Homo sapiens: one gene and its partners. The protein of the gene in region 1 purifies or fractionates together with the protein of each later gene. This does not show direct contact. Each region holds a gene or a part of one and is shown in the gene's direction. Other genes may lie near its edges.

Region 1 (3,500 bases):
GGTGAGATAATGATTGTGAAAACATTGATTGAGGTGTGTGATTGTTTAATTAAAACACAATGGTTTTCAATCTGACTTACGTAGGTATTTTGCAGTGTAGTATGATTCTGTCTATAGGAAGTTTATTCTTTGCCTGAAATTTGCTTAAGTATGTTTTACCTACCTTAAAAAGCACTGTTTAGTAAGATAACTTTGAGTATTGAATTATGATAATAAAAGGTAGCTTTAAGAATCTTAACCTTGTAGATTATTGCCATCTCTATCTCTGACTCTTGAATTTTGGTATTGGAACTTGCCCGGTCGTGGTGAAGGACGAGGTTGGAACTCTGGTTAAAATGTAGTTTTGAAACTTACATAACAAGTAAGTAATCCCCATAGTAGATGTACACATGCTTAGGGTATAAGCATGTATGATTTCTTCTGTAATAAATGTGGTAACACTGAATTATGAATTTCCTTGAGAATAATAAAAATTGGGCCAGGTGCAGTATCTCATGCCTATAATCCCAGCACCTTGGGAGGCCAAGGCAGGCAGGTCACTTGAGGTCAGGAGTTCGAGATCAACCTGGCCAATATGGTGAAACCCTGTCTCTACTAAAAATACAAAACTTAGCCAGGCTTGGTGGTGCACGCCTGTAGTGAAGTAGAGGTTGCAGTGAGTTGAGATCGTGCCATTGCACTCCAGCCTGGGCGTTGCAGAGAGACTCTGTCTCAAAAAAATAAAATAAAAAAAATTAGGTGAACATTTCTCAGAATTTGTTCTGCAGCATGTTAATAGATGTCCTATCAGAAAGGGTTTAGTATTCCATTAAGGTTGGGAAATGCTTTACTACAGGACTTCAGAGCCTTTAGTGGACTGATGTGTGTTGTAACACTCAAATAGCAATTTTTCTATAAAGTCATCCCTTTTATATATGGCTTCACTTTCCACAGTTTCAGTTACCTGTGGCCAACTGCAGTCCAAAAATATTAAATGGAAAATTCTGGAAATAATAAGTTTTAAATTGTACACCATAAACAGTCTTCTTTTCATTTAACTTAGAGTACTTGTATGAGTTTGGTAGATTTCTAGAAGTAGAATTACTATATTGGCAGCCTAAGAAAAAGACACTAGAGAAAATTATCTCCAAATATGATGAGTTTATTAGGGAATAAGAAAGAAGTATGGTAATTTGGAATGCACTGGCAAACCACCAGTACATCCAGTGAGGGAAGGGTAAAGGGAAGCTTTTATTAGCAAAAAGGGAGAGGTTCACACAAGCTGCTTGGAAACTGAGTTCATTGGTTCCTGAGGCTCAAAGCCAAGTTGTCAGTTCATTGGTGGCGATGCCATTACTGGGCAAGTGTTCTTTTGAGTGCATCTTATCTGAATTACTGCAGTCCTAAAGAATGGCAGTGATAAACCATGTGAAAGCAGGAGTTGCAATGAAGGGCGTGAAAGGATTTCTTGTGGGGTTTTTAGAAAGTCTTTGGAAACAAGGACTCTTTTTGTCTCTATTTTGTCTTGGTCTGTCAAAAGGTGATTTCATCCTAATGTCTGCAACTTTCACATTATTAAAAGATATGTGCATTTTAAATTTGAATAAAAATTGTGGCCAGGTATGGTGGCACCTGCCTGTAATCCCAGCACTTTGGAAGGTTGAGGTGGGAGGATCATTTGAGCCCAGGAGTTAGAAATTAGCCTGGGCAAAATAGCAAGACCGTGTCTCAAAAAAAAAAAAAAAAAAAAAGGTTAAATTACTCCCCATCTAGATTATGTGCACAATTTTAGTTAAATGGATTATGTGCTCAATTTTTTTTTTTTTTTTTGAGACGGAGTCTCGCTCTGTCACCCGGGCTAGAGTGCAGTGGCGCGATCTCGGCTCACTGCAAGCTCCGCCTCCCGGGTTCACGCCATTCTCCTGCCTCAGCCTCCCAAGTAGCTGGGACTACAGGTGCCCGCCACCACGCCCGGCTAAGTTTTGTATTTTTAGTAGAGATGGGGTTTCACCGTGTTAGCCAGGATGGTCTCGATCTCCTGACCTTGTGATCCGCCCACCTCGGCCTCCCAAAGTGCTGGGTTTACAGGTGTGAACCATCGCGCCCAGCCCTGTGCTCAATTTTTAACTAAGTGCACAATTGTTCTGTGAAAAACAAGCAATGGGCTATTTCTTGTAGCAGACTAAGGAGAGACTTAGTTTTTCTGTCAAGCAGATGGTGAGGGTAACATTGTTGGGCCAACATCAGTGTAATTACTTTGATTTTTCTCTTTTCTCTTTCATCCCAATGTTCAGTTAATATTCTTTCTTCATACTACAAAGTAAAGAATAAAGGGCATAGAAAGCAAAGGTGTGAACTGACTGTTTAGCAAACTTATTCTTGAAAAGACAAGTGTCAGTCTAGAAGTACAAAATATTGAGATTTAGTAGCATAATATTTTATGTACCTCCACTATCCTCATTTTAGGTTATACAATTCTTTGGTATTTGGCCCTTTTTGTTGACTAGAAAGGCCTGGATTATGAGCCTTGTGATAAGAGAGTTGAGTGGGGATGCAGTTTTGGTGCCTTTTCCCTTTCCATTTAAAAAGTTCTGTCTCAGTAAGATAAACTATGGTGTTCAAGTCAGCATAGGCAGGAACCTATTTTATTTATTCAGTGAGAGTAGGATAGATAAGTGAGGGTTTGTGATGATGAGATAATTTAGGAAATTTTGTATTTAGTTACTAGTCATTTGGCATATGAATTATTGTTATCCTCAGTTAACATTAGCTAATGCAGCAGTTTTGAAAATTTAGAGGCACCTAGAAAGTTCCAAACAGTTTGCCATCTGCTTCACATACCGGGTCTCTAATCCTTCGGACTTATAATACAGGTAGAGGTCGTTTTATTTTATAGATGATAAAACTGAGACTCAGAGTGATTTAGTAACCTACTCAACATCACAGCTTAGCACTTTAACACACCATATTGTTTCCCGTCTTCTAGAAGCGTAAATAGCTTACATTAAAGAGATATTGTATATAATGTTTATTGTATATATTACATGTGCCTTTGTCATTTTAGGGGAATGCACATAGTCTTTTACAGACAAAAAATTATTCAGAAGTATGCAAAAACTGCCGTGAAGCATACAAAACTCTGAGTAGTCTGTACAGTGAAATGCAAAAAATGAATGAACTTGAGAATAAGGCTGAACCTGGAACACATTTATGCATTGATGTGGAAGATGCAGTAAGTACTTTGCTTCTGATGTGATACATATTTTAGAGTGTTATTGAATGTACCTTCAGTATGATTATTATTTTTGGTGATAGGGTGGAATCTGCATATTCTGTCCTCAACCAAAAATAACTAGTTATAAAGTAGTAAAGTTTTAGAATATCCTGGTCTGTTAAACCAAAATGGATATTTCCTTAGTAGTCTCATGGTTAGGATAAAAATAAAACAGAAATTAATTAGGTACTTCATAAGTGAGTTGATGCTTTGGTACATTTTAATCTTTTTAAATTTGAAAATATGT
Region 2 (3,500 bases), on another chromosome or scaffold:
TAATCTGAGTTGATAATGTGGGTGAGAGAATTGGTCCTTATATACCTTCTTTGAAGTAATGGCTTAGGCAGCCCCTCAGGTAGGCTTTCGAGTAGGAAAGTTACCCAGGTACTCAACTGTGATTCACTTGTGTTTTGCTTGCCAATTTTCACCCCATGGTACTATGTCATGTTTTGCTCTTTTTATAGAAAGAAATTCAAGCCATGAGTCAGTGCAGCCATCCCAACGTAGTGACCTATTACACCTCTTTTGTGGTCAAAGATGAACTTTGGCTGGTCATGAAATTACTAAGTGGAGGTAAGTGGATTTTGTTGTTGTTATTTATTTGCTTGTTTTCTCTCCTTTTGTTGGAACCAGCATATTGGAGAAGACTTTAGATTGAATCCTTTCTCTCCTGTGTTTGAAAGTTTGTTTGGTTTCTCATTGCCTAGAGGATAACGTCCAGATTGCTTCACATTGACCTTCAAAGCTTTTCATAATTTTGCTTAACTTCCGAGAATGTGTATGTCCTCTTCTCCAGGTATGAAATGCCCGACCTTCTAGGCTGAGAGGCAGCCCCCGGAATGTATTATGTGCTCTCATGCCTTTGCCCCTGACCTGTCCTCTTTCTCAGCCTTGCATCTCTCCTTTGTTTTCCATGTGCTCAGGCCTAAAAGGTCACATCCTCTCCACAGTCACCGCTTACTCTTCAAAAAAGTTAGCCAGTCCTTTCTCCTTGAGTCCTTTCTTTTTAACATTGTTCAGGTCCTTAACACATTGCAGTTTGCTGAATTATCTCAGTGCCATTTATCAGAATGTTCTGTGATGATGGAAATGTTCTGAGGTGCTGCTATCTACTTTTTACTAATCCCATGTGACTCTTAAGCACTTGACATGTGGCTAGTGTGACTGAGGGACTGAGTATTCAATTTTAATTAACTTACATTTAAATCACCTTGTATGGCTCCAGTATTGGACAGTGCATATTTAGGTTGTGGACTTTGTGAAGATTGTCTAATGCACTTTGAATTCATTGAACTTGGCGCCCAGTAGGTGCTCACTAAATGTGGTTTCAGTTGACATGGGGAGAAATGTGTGCTACATATTCACTTGCAGTGTTGATCAGAAATGGCACTATTGTCATCCTATTGTTGCATTTGGGAAGGGAAAGTCACTTCCTCTCTCTAGCTTCAGATCCCTGCAGTGATGCAAGCCATTGACAATTTAATTTACAAGGTGCTTTCACATCCTGTATTTTATTTCTTTTAATCTTCTAACATCACTATCAGAGAGGGAATGATAATGATAACCGTTGCCTTTTTTGAACACTTACTCTGTGGCTAGATCCTGTCCAAGGCAATTTACTGACCTTATCCCATTTAATCTTCACAGTGTCCCTGAATGGCCTGTGTCACCATCCCTGTTTTTCAGAAATTACACCAAATTTCAAGGGAGTTTAGCAACTTGCCCAAGGTCACACACATAGTAAATGTTGGTGCTGGAATTTGTGACTTTAACATCTGTTGACTTAAAAATTTGTATGCTGTGCTGCAAGTATTTACACCTTCGTTTTGCAGACATGGGCACTGAAGCTTAGAAAGCCCAAGTGATTTCCTTGGGAACACCCAGCATACCCACATCTCTGGTGTGTTCTCTTTCGAGGGCTTGATTCTCTGGGTATCTTTCTGAGACATGAAGTATGGTTTAGGATCAGAGGAGAACATTTTGCTGTGCCTGGACAACCCAAAACTAGCATAGCAGAATTTATATGATAGAGCCTATTTTAATCTGCAGATGTCGAGGGAGGTGTTTTAATGTTTTCCTTTTTTAAAAAGGAAACTCTCTTGGATCAAGCAGAAGCCCAAAAATGAGATGACGAAGGCATTGTAATTGGCTTGGGTCTGCTTGTGTAGGTCTCGGTGGGGAGCCCTGGGGAGCTTAGTTCTGTTCTGTTTTCAGTCTTCCTCAGTCTTATTAGTCATTGTTTCCTTGAGTGCCTACTTCAGTTTTTAATTAAAAAGAAAAAAAGAAAAAGGAAAAGAAAAAGGAAGCCTGCCAGAGCTGGACTGCAGTATTGAGTGCTGGGACTGCCCCTTTATTCAGCAGAGGAACTTGCGCTTTGCCAACAAGATGATCTTAAGGCATTCTCTTTTTGTGGGGTTCCACCAACTCTGAGGAAATGAGAAATTCTGATGACTTGAGACCCTGAATAGTCCCAAATGCTCTGCTCAAGCTGAAGATTTTACCTTTTGCTTTATGAAGCTGAGAATCTTCTGTTTTCTGAGGAGGATCTGACAGAAAATTTCTTTGTCTTTTTGAGTCCAATTTAGCCTCTCTGGGCTTTAGGTAAGAACAGATTTTAAACAGGTTTCCACAGGTAAGGACGTGGGCAGACGTGGACTCTTGTTCATTTTTCTTTTAGCAGGACAGAAATGCATGCATGCCTGGTATGGTATATCCTTATACAATAAAAAGAAAATGTTTTTGGAATTATCATTTTTTAAATGACACAAAAATCTAAGAGTCAACAAATAAACAGAGGTTTTTTTTTCCTCTGGGGAAAAATATGCATTTGTTTTCTTCTATTTCATTACATTGAATCTCTTAATGAGGGGCAGGCAGCTGTATCTGATGGGGAAGCTCAATCCTCTTAGTTAATTATAAAGAGCCTAGAGCCAAATTCAGGTCCTGAGGTAAGCCGTTTGTTAACTCTTCAGAAATGTCAAACCCCCAGGTAATTTTGGCTTTTAAACTGACCCAGGGGTTTGGAATACTAATTAATATGTGTTGAAACATGAATTCACAGTGCCAAGGATACTAATCTGTATATGGTAACAAAGTACTAGGTATCTGTTTGTTTATTGTAAGTGTTAGTGCCTCAAATATATCAGGTAAATGAAATAAAGATCAGCCAGGCTCAGTGGCTTATGCCTATAAGCCCAGCACTTTGGGAGGCCAAAGGTGGGCAGATCACTTAAGCCCAGAAGTTCAAGACCGGCATGGGCAACGTGGTAAGACCCCATCTCTACAAAAAATACAAAAATTAGCCAGGCGTGGTGGCACGTACTTGTAGTCCCAGCTACTTGGGAGGCTGAGGTGGGAGGATCGCTTGAGCCTGGGAAGTTGAGGCTGCAGTGAGCTGTGATTGCTCCACTGCACTCCAGCTTATATGACAGAGGCAGACTCTGTCTCAAATAAAAAAAGAAAAAGAAGGAAAGAAAATAAAGATCAGGTAGTGTCACAGGAAGGAATCTTCCGGTTATAAGCAGAGGTCTAGAAACAACATACTTCTTTCCCCCTCCCACCTGTGATTTAGGTCCTCAAAGAGTGTGTTTTTTTTCTCTCAGCAGTTCACTTCTGCCTTTTCTCCTGGCCTCATACTCCTTTCTTTGTCAGTTCAGACTTTTTGCACCCTCTTTGGAGGGTTGCTCTTAGGAATTTTTGTGAGAAATACTGTAACCAGAAAAGGAACCAGCCATGGAACGGCCATGAACAGCCTTCTGGTCCCTGACCCAGAATCC
Region 3 (3,500 bases), on another chromosome or scaffold:
GTGTCATCCTCCAGCCCATTGAAGGTAGTTCGGAGATCCCGGGTCTTAACCTGCCCTTCCCCACTGCATGGAAAGTGCTAGATCCCATGTCTCCCCTTGGGCCACTGAGGCCTGATTCTGGTCATAGACCTGGTCCAGCTCCAACTGGAGGCCACTGGGCATCTTTAGATATGTATTTAACTGATGGCTGCTCTCTCTAACATGGCTTCATCTGTCCTTCTGCATCAGTTGTGACCAATCAGAGCAGTTTTGCTGCCCAGGGGACATCTGGCAATGTCCAGGGACATCTTTGGTTGTCACAACTTGAAGGGAAGAAATGTTGCTGGCGTGGAGTGGGCGGAGGCCAGGGATGCTGCTCAGCACCCTGCAGTGCCCAGAATGGCCCCGCCACAGAGGGCGATCTGGCCCCAAATGGTGATGGCGCTGAGGGGGAGAAACTGTGAAGTACACGTCCCATGGTCACCTTGGGGACAATCTGGGAGCGGTCAGAGTGAACTTCCAGGAAGTGGTTGGCCACACAGAGCCAAACTAGCAAGACAGCCCCCACAGATCCCTGGCCTCTCGCCCTGGCTGCAGGCATCATGGGCAGTGATTACATCAATGCCAACTACGTGGACGGCTACCGGTGTCAGAACGCGTACATTGCCACGCAGGGGCCGCTGCCTGAGACCTTTGGGGACTTCTGGCGTATGGTGTGGGAGCAGCGGTCGGCGACCATCGTCATGATGACGCGGCTGGAGGAGAAGTCACGGGTGAGCCTTGGACCCCACGGCCCTCAAGCCCCTGCCAGTCAGCCTGTCCCTGCTGACACCTGTTCTCTTGCCCGATACAGATCAAGTGTGATCAGTATTGGCCCAACAGAGGCACGGAGACCTACGGCTTCATCCAGGTCACGTTGCTAGATACCATCGAGCTGGCCACATTCTGCGTCAGGACATTCTCTCTGCACAAGGTGGGGCCCAGGCTGGGGCTGGGGGCTGAGGGTGGAGGAATGTGTTGGAAGGGAGGCAGAGGGCCCCAGCTTCTACCCAGGGAGCTCCCCATGGGACAGAGAGAAAGCGGAGCGTGTCTACCCAGGCTGACTACATTCTCATGGAACCCACTTCCGTGGAGGGGGAAACTGAGGCTCAGAGAGGACACTGCTTGTTTCCACCCACGGCAGGAGAACAAAGCCGGCAGAGCCCAACTCAGCAATGAGCCTGATTTCTTCTTGCCTTTACTCATGCCCCAGGTCCTCTTTGCCCACTTGTCCTCTGGCCTCACCCAGCTTGAGCCTATGATGGGGGCCTCAGCAGGGCCCCAGCCCTGCCTTCAAGGAGTCTCCAGACAGAGATGGACAGATATTGGCAGCCCTGCAAAGTCAGGACTGGGATGGAGAAGATCTTTTAGATATGTATTTAACTGATGGCTGCTGTCCATAGTGCGGTTCCATCTGTTTTTCTCCATCTGTGGTTCTGAATTAGGACAATTCTGCCATCCAGGAGACATTTGTTATTGTCATGATGGGGAGGGGAGGTGCTACTGGCACCGTGATGTATCCCCAACACCCAGCCAGGTCATCTCACCGTCAGGCACCTGCTTGACCTAAGTGCCAGAAAACTGAGTACATGGACAAGAGTGAGAATTCTTGGTTCAATCACACACATTAAGCATATGTTATACATTAAGCATATGTTATATCTCACTCCCTAACCTGGACACAAGCACACAACAGGGACCTAAACAGACAAAACGTTCTGCCCTTGGGGGATTTAACAGTCTAGTAGACAAGACACAGACCACAACTATGAAATGTCAAGAAAGCTTACATGTCAAAGGAGAAAAATAAAGTGGAGGAGAAAAACAGTGTTAGGGACCTGGAAGAGGGTATGATGGGGAGATTTGGGGGGACAGCATTTCAGGTAAGAGGGTGCAGCCTGGGCAGAGGCCCTGGGGCAGGACCGTGCCTGGTCATGCAGGATCCTGTGGGCCTTGGGGAAGACTTTGGCTTTGACCCTGTGGGAGGCAGGAGCCATGGAGGGCTGTGGGCAGAGGAGGTACCAGATCTGACTCAGGTGCCCTCTGGCTGCTGCAGGGAGGACAGACTGGGGGGCTTGGGTGGGAGCCAAGGTCTGCGGCAAAGAGGGTGGTGATAGGTCTAGACCAGATTGGCCTGCATGGAGAACATGGAGCAGGTGGATTGGGATAGACTTTGAAGGCAGAGCCGACAGTCCCGGGTGAGGTGTTGGATGTGAGAGGGGAAGAGTTAAGGGTGACTCCCAAGCTGTGGCCAGAGTGCCCAGAAGGTTGGAGCCACCTTCAGCTAAGACGGGGGAGCAGGTTTGGGGAGAAGGCCAGATACAGTTGGCCACGTTGTGTGTGAGGCGTCCGCAAGACTCTACTTGGAAACCGTCCAGGGCCAGCTAGAGCCCAAGTCAGGCACTTGGGGACATGGTGACTGGGAGGCGCAGACATGGGTGTTTTTTTTTTTGAGATGGAGTTTCACTCTGTCACCCAGGCTGGAGTACAGTGGCGCCATCTCAGCTCACTGCAATCTCCACCTCCCAGGTTCAAGCAATTCTCCTGCCTCAGCCTCCCAAGTAGCTGAGATTACAGGCATGCACCACCATGCCTAGCTAATTTTGTATTTTTAGTTGAGACGAGGTTTCTCCATGTTGGTCAGGCTGGTCTCGAACTCCTGACCTCAGGTGATCCGCCCACCTCGGCCTCCCAAAGTGCTGGGATAACAGGCATGAGCCACCACACCCGGCCACTTGGGCATCTTCAGCACATGGGTGGCAGGTTGAGCCGGAGTGACAGGTGACATCCTTGTGGTCCCCAGAATGGCTCCAGTGAGAAACGCGAGGTCCGCCAGTTCCAGTTTACGGCGTGGCCGGACCATGGCGTGCCCGAATACCCAACGCCCTTCCTGGCTTTCCTGCGGAGAGTCAAGACCTGCAACCCGCCAGATGCCGGCCCCATCGTGGTTCACTGCAGGTACGTCCACCCCACTCTGCCCCATCCGCTTCCCCCCGGTCCCCGCAGCCCAGCAGCCCCTGAACGCCACGTGGCTGTCCCTGCAGTGCCGGTGTGGGCCGCACAGGCTGCTTTATCGTCATCGACGCCATGCTTGAGCGGATCAAGCCAGAGAAGACAGTCGATGTCTATGGCCACGTGACGCTCATGAGGTCCCAGCGCAACTACATGGTGCAGACGGAGGACCAGTACAGCTTCATCCACGAGGCCCTGCTGGAGGCCGTGGGCTGTGGCAACACAGAAGTGCCCGCACGCAGCCTCTATGCCTACATCCAGAAGCTGGCCCAGGTGGAGCCTGGCGAACACGTCACTGGCATGGAACTCGAGTTCAAGGTGCCAGCGGGGTGGAGGCTGCTGTGGGCGGGGTGGGGAGGAGGCCCAAAGAGCCGAAAATCAGGCCCGCCTCGAGCAATGGGGACTAGAAGGTGGTGGCAGGGTGCCCCTACCTACCTATCCACCATTGGTGCTCCAGCTGAAAGCATAGC
Region 4 (3,500 bases), on another chromosome or scaffold:
TAACCTTGGTGATTAGATAGTTGCCTGAGTATATTGATAGGATCATGAAGATAGTTGTACATCATCAAGTAGGTTTCTAAGGAATTTACCATATCTGCTAAGGAATTAAGATTAGGAAGTTTGGCTGAGAAGTCTAGGTTGGCAAGGTAAGAATTGATAAAAAGTAACTCTAAGGTTAGAGGGTTTCTTGTTTCTGAAGGACCTTATAGAAAATAATCTTAAGAAGTTTTCTGCTTTGAGAGGAACTCACTTAAACCATTCTAGATAGAGTCATTTTATTTTAAAATAGAAAATGCAATAATGTCTTTCAGTCTAGTATGTAGAAAACATTTGTCATTTGTAAGTTTTATTAATTTTTAATCTGGTTTTAATCTTAAAAGTGTTATGGTAATTTTTTTATGCTGTGTTTTGTATAAAATCCATTAGTATATGATTCCCATTCCTTTGCCTCTACCAATGTAAGAAAATCTGATCACTTGATTTAAGAACATACATTCCAGAGTAATGGGATGGTTCCCACCTTAACATTAGTGAATTGAAGACCAGGACTTTACCAAAGGAGTTCATTTTTATTTGAGCACAGCCTTTGCATTTTTGTGATTCTTCTCTCAAATTTCAAACTTGCATGGCCAACTTCCTGATGAGTATCTCTATCTTGCTGGCACGTGGACCCATCAAACTGCTGTTGAAAGAGAACTTATTTATTCTTTTGTTTTCTTAATCTTAATAGCACTACAGTTTTCTCAGTCACCCTCCCAAGCCAGACATCTGGGAGCAGAGATGGCATATGCATGTCATTTACTGCAATTCTCCCTCTGCCCATGTTAGCTCAGCAGACACAGCCCTCTTTCCTTCTGAATCTTGACATGAACATCAGCTTTTAAAACAGACACAATCTCATTGTCACCAAGTCCTCCTAAGTTTTACTTCCTAAATTTCTTAAATCTACCCTTACTCTGCCTGTGTACTGTCATTGCCTACTTCAAGCCTTTACAGCTGCTTAACATGTGGATTAAATCCATATGATAATTGTGAGGTAGATAACTGTTACTACTAGTTTTACAGATGACAAAACTGAGACACATTAGGTAACTTGCTCAAAGTCATTTTTTGCTTAATCTGCTGTAACTGTCTCTTAACTGGTACTTCCAGCTTTCAGTCTTGGCCTCCACATACTCATTTTTCTTTAGTTGCCAGAGTCATCTTTTTAAAATGCATGACTTCAAATAGCATGCTATCCGCTGTGATGTGCTGGGCAGTACATTTTATTGATGCAGCCAAACTTTAATACATGTTTCAAAGAAATCTTACATAAATTTTTAAAATATAAGGTTGGTTTTTATTTTGTAAAAGCCTGTTCTATCTTCTTCTTAAATTCTGTTTTTTGAGTTAGCTGTTAAATTAGATGAAATTTAAAATGTTTTGTATCTGTTAATGCCAGCTTTGTTGAAAAGCAAAATAGGCGCCCCATACTATTCTGCTTTTAAGGATTTTTTTAAAAACTTCAATGTTTGTTTAAAATAAAGCAACTGTCTTTAATAATTTTATAATAATTTATAGTTTTGAGAGTATGTTTGCGTTTATTTTGCTTAATGTTCTAAATCATATTTATTTTATGGTAGGGCAAGCTTTTGTAAGTGCCGTGTTTACTCAGATGATTTTAGAAAGTAAAGAATTAGCCACATGTCCTATTTATTTAATTTTTCTTTTTGGCAACTTAAATTTTGGCTTGAACCACGTTATTGCCATGGTAAGTTCTGTACTTATGGTAGTTTACGTTTTAATCTACTTTTTTTGAAGACTCAGTTAACCACTATTGAACAATCTTTATTGTTTTAAAGGCATGTAGGCTTATTTCTCTCATACTAAAGTGACTCAGATTATTGTCCTTTTGGTGTCATTTGTGCTTTAGAGGACTCATTCTGTTTTTCATTTTGCTGTTGCTTGTTATTTGTTGGACCTTCCTGCAGTAACTGCTCACTGCAGTGCAGCATAGAGGTTAAGAGGGTTCACTTTGTAGGCAAACTGAAGTTAATTCTTTTGTGCCTCAGTTTTCTCATCTGTAAAATGAAGATAATAGCTCATTTAATCCTATTGAAGTACTAATAGTACGGTGTCTAGCAAATAAGCACTCAATAATTACTGAAAGAAAATAATGTCAGGTACTGTTTTTTCTAAAAAGCTTATGCTACCTTCTTAAGCAGAAATAGTGAACATGATTTCATGAGATGTGGCTATTGTACTGTAAAAACCTCAGGGTCTTTTCATTCAACAACTTTTTATTAAGAATACACCTGCTAAATTCATACACACACACCCACCCCCACCCCCACTCACTCACATCTATGCTTATATTTATGCTCAGTGGCTCTACTAATTAGTTTAGGCTTTTCCTTTCACACTTTGCTTTTCCTTAAGACTTTACATCTTGCTGCTGTTGCTTATGGCTCTGCTTCTGCCAAATTTGTTGAGAATTCTAACAGCCAAAAAAGCAAGTATAACTGAGAGAGAGAGCTGAGGTACTGATTTTGAACAAAGTACACAAGATTTAATACACAGACTTCGTTACCTCTTGACAGCTCATTGGTTACTTTTTTAAAAAAAACTTCTTGTTTTACAGCTATATTTTGAGCAATTGATATTGCTAGACAGTTCTTACATAATATGGTGCTATTAGTGAGTTTGTGTTATTTTCAGATGTTGTTTAGGGTGAGATTTTCAATCTTTAAATTTCCAGATGGAGATACACGTGAATTAGAGCGAACAAAACAATATGTAAATGAAGCTTTTCAAGCAGGGGCTATGACATGCCTAATTTGTATTGCTTCGGTGAAGAGAAACCAAGCAGTAAGTTTTTCTCCTTATTTATATTAATGTATCTCCCCAAAATACCTTAGTTTGCCTTACAATACTTAACGATTTATTATTCTTTTGTTTACTTATGTTTAAAAATGCTTCATTTGAGAATTTTGTATATGAATTGATCTTCATTTTAAAATCTGTAATTAAAAAAAAATTACCACTAAATGAGTATCCAGTATTTTTAGCACTATTGATATAACTTAGTTGTCTTCAGTTTTAATGCAAATGTTGATTTGATAGAACATTTTTAGCATCTGTACTTTAGAGATTCCCACAAAAGTGAAATGTTAAATGTACTATATTTTATTACTTTTGGAAAAAGATACGGTCCCTATCTTCAAGAAAGTAGAACTTGGCAGTAACACTTATGGCTTAATTAGTTAGCGTATCCTGTGTTAAAGGCATTTTGGGAAGTGGTGAGGGTCAGTCGGGAGAGAGATTCAGACAAAACTCATGTCCTTGGAGGAGATATGGCGTAGTGATAAAGATATATATGTGTAAATTTAAAAGGGCATTAATGAAGCAATTAAGAAGTGATTACTGAATGTGAAAGACTCAACATTTAGACCTTAGATTAATTCACTGCTATTATAGCAGCATTGCCTAGAGAAAGCAAATCAAGTCAGATGAAATAGTTT

The links. Proteins that work in one complex are often made in the same cells at the same time.
Region 2: the proteins of OSTM1 (region 1) and STK39 purify together in Homo sapiens (affinity purification with mass spectrometry; one large-scale study listed by BioGRID and IntAct). This does not show direct contact.
Region 3: the proteins of OSTM1 (region 1) and PTPRS purify together in Homo sapiens (co-immunoprecipitation; one large-scale study listed by IntAct). This does not show direct contact.
Region 4: the proteins of OSTM1 (region 1) and NFXL1 purify together in Homo sapiens (co-immunoprecipitation; one large-scale study listed by IntAct). This does not show direct contact.

The regions. Positions count from the first base shown.
Region 1 is NC_000006.12:108,050,742-108,054,241, reverse strand, and holds part of OSTM1 (osteopetrosis-associated transmembrane protein 1 precursor), read left to right. Parts: intron 1-3,043; coding exon 3,044-3,211; intron 3,212-3,500. UniProt on the Homo sapiens protein: Required for osteoclast and melanocyte maturation and function.
Region 2 is NC_000002.12:168,164,096-168,167,595, reverse strand, and holds part of STK39 (STE20/SPS1-related proline-alanine-rich protein kinase), read left to right. Parts: intron 1-188; coding exon 189-297; intron 298-3,500. UniProt on the Homo sapiens protein: Effector serine/threonine-protein kinase component of the WNK-SPAK/OSR1 kinase cascade, which is involved in various processes, such as ion transport, response to hypertonic stress and blood pressure.
Region 3 is NC_000019.10:5,211,813-5,215,312, reverse strand, and holds part of PTPRS (receptor-type tyrosine-protein phosphatase S isoform 1 precursor), read left to right. Parts: coding exon 1-24; intron 25-576; coding exon 577-752; intron 753-832; coding exon 833-952; intron 953-2,821; coding exon 2,822-2,976; intron 2,977-3,062; coding exon 3,063-3,348; intron 3,349-3,500. UniProt on the Homo sapiens protein: Cell surface receptor that binds to glycosaminoglycans, including chondroitin sulfate proteoglycans and heparan sulfate proteoglycan.
Region 4 is NC_000004.12:47,904,584-47,908,083, reverse strand, and holds part of NFXL1 (NF-X1-type zinc finger protein NFXL1), read left to right. Parts: intron 1-2,737; coding exon 2,738-2,847; intron 2,848-3,500.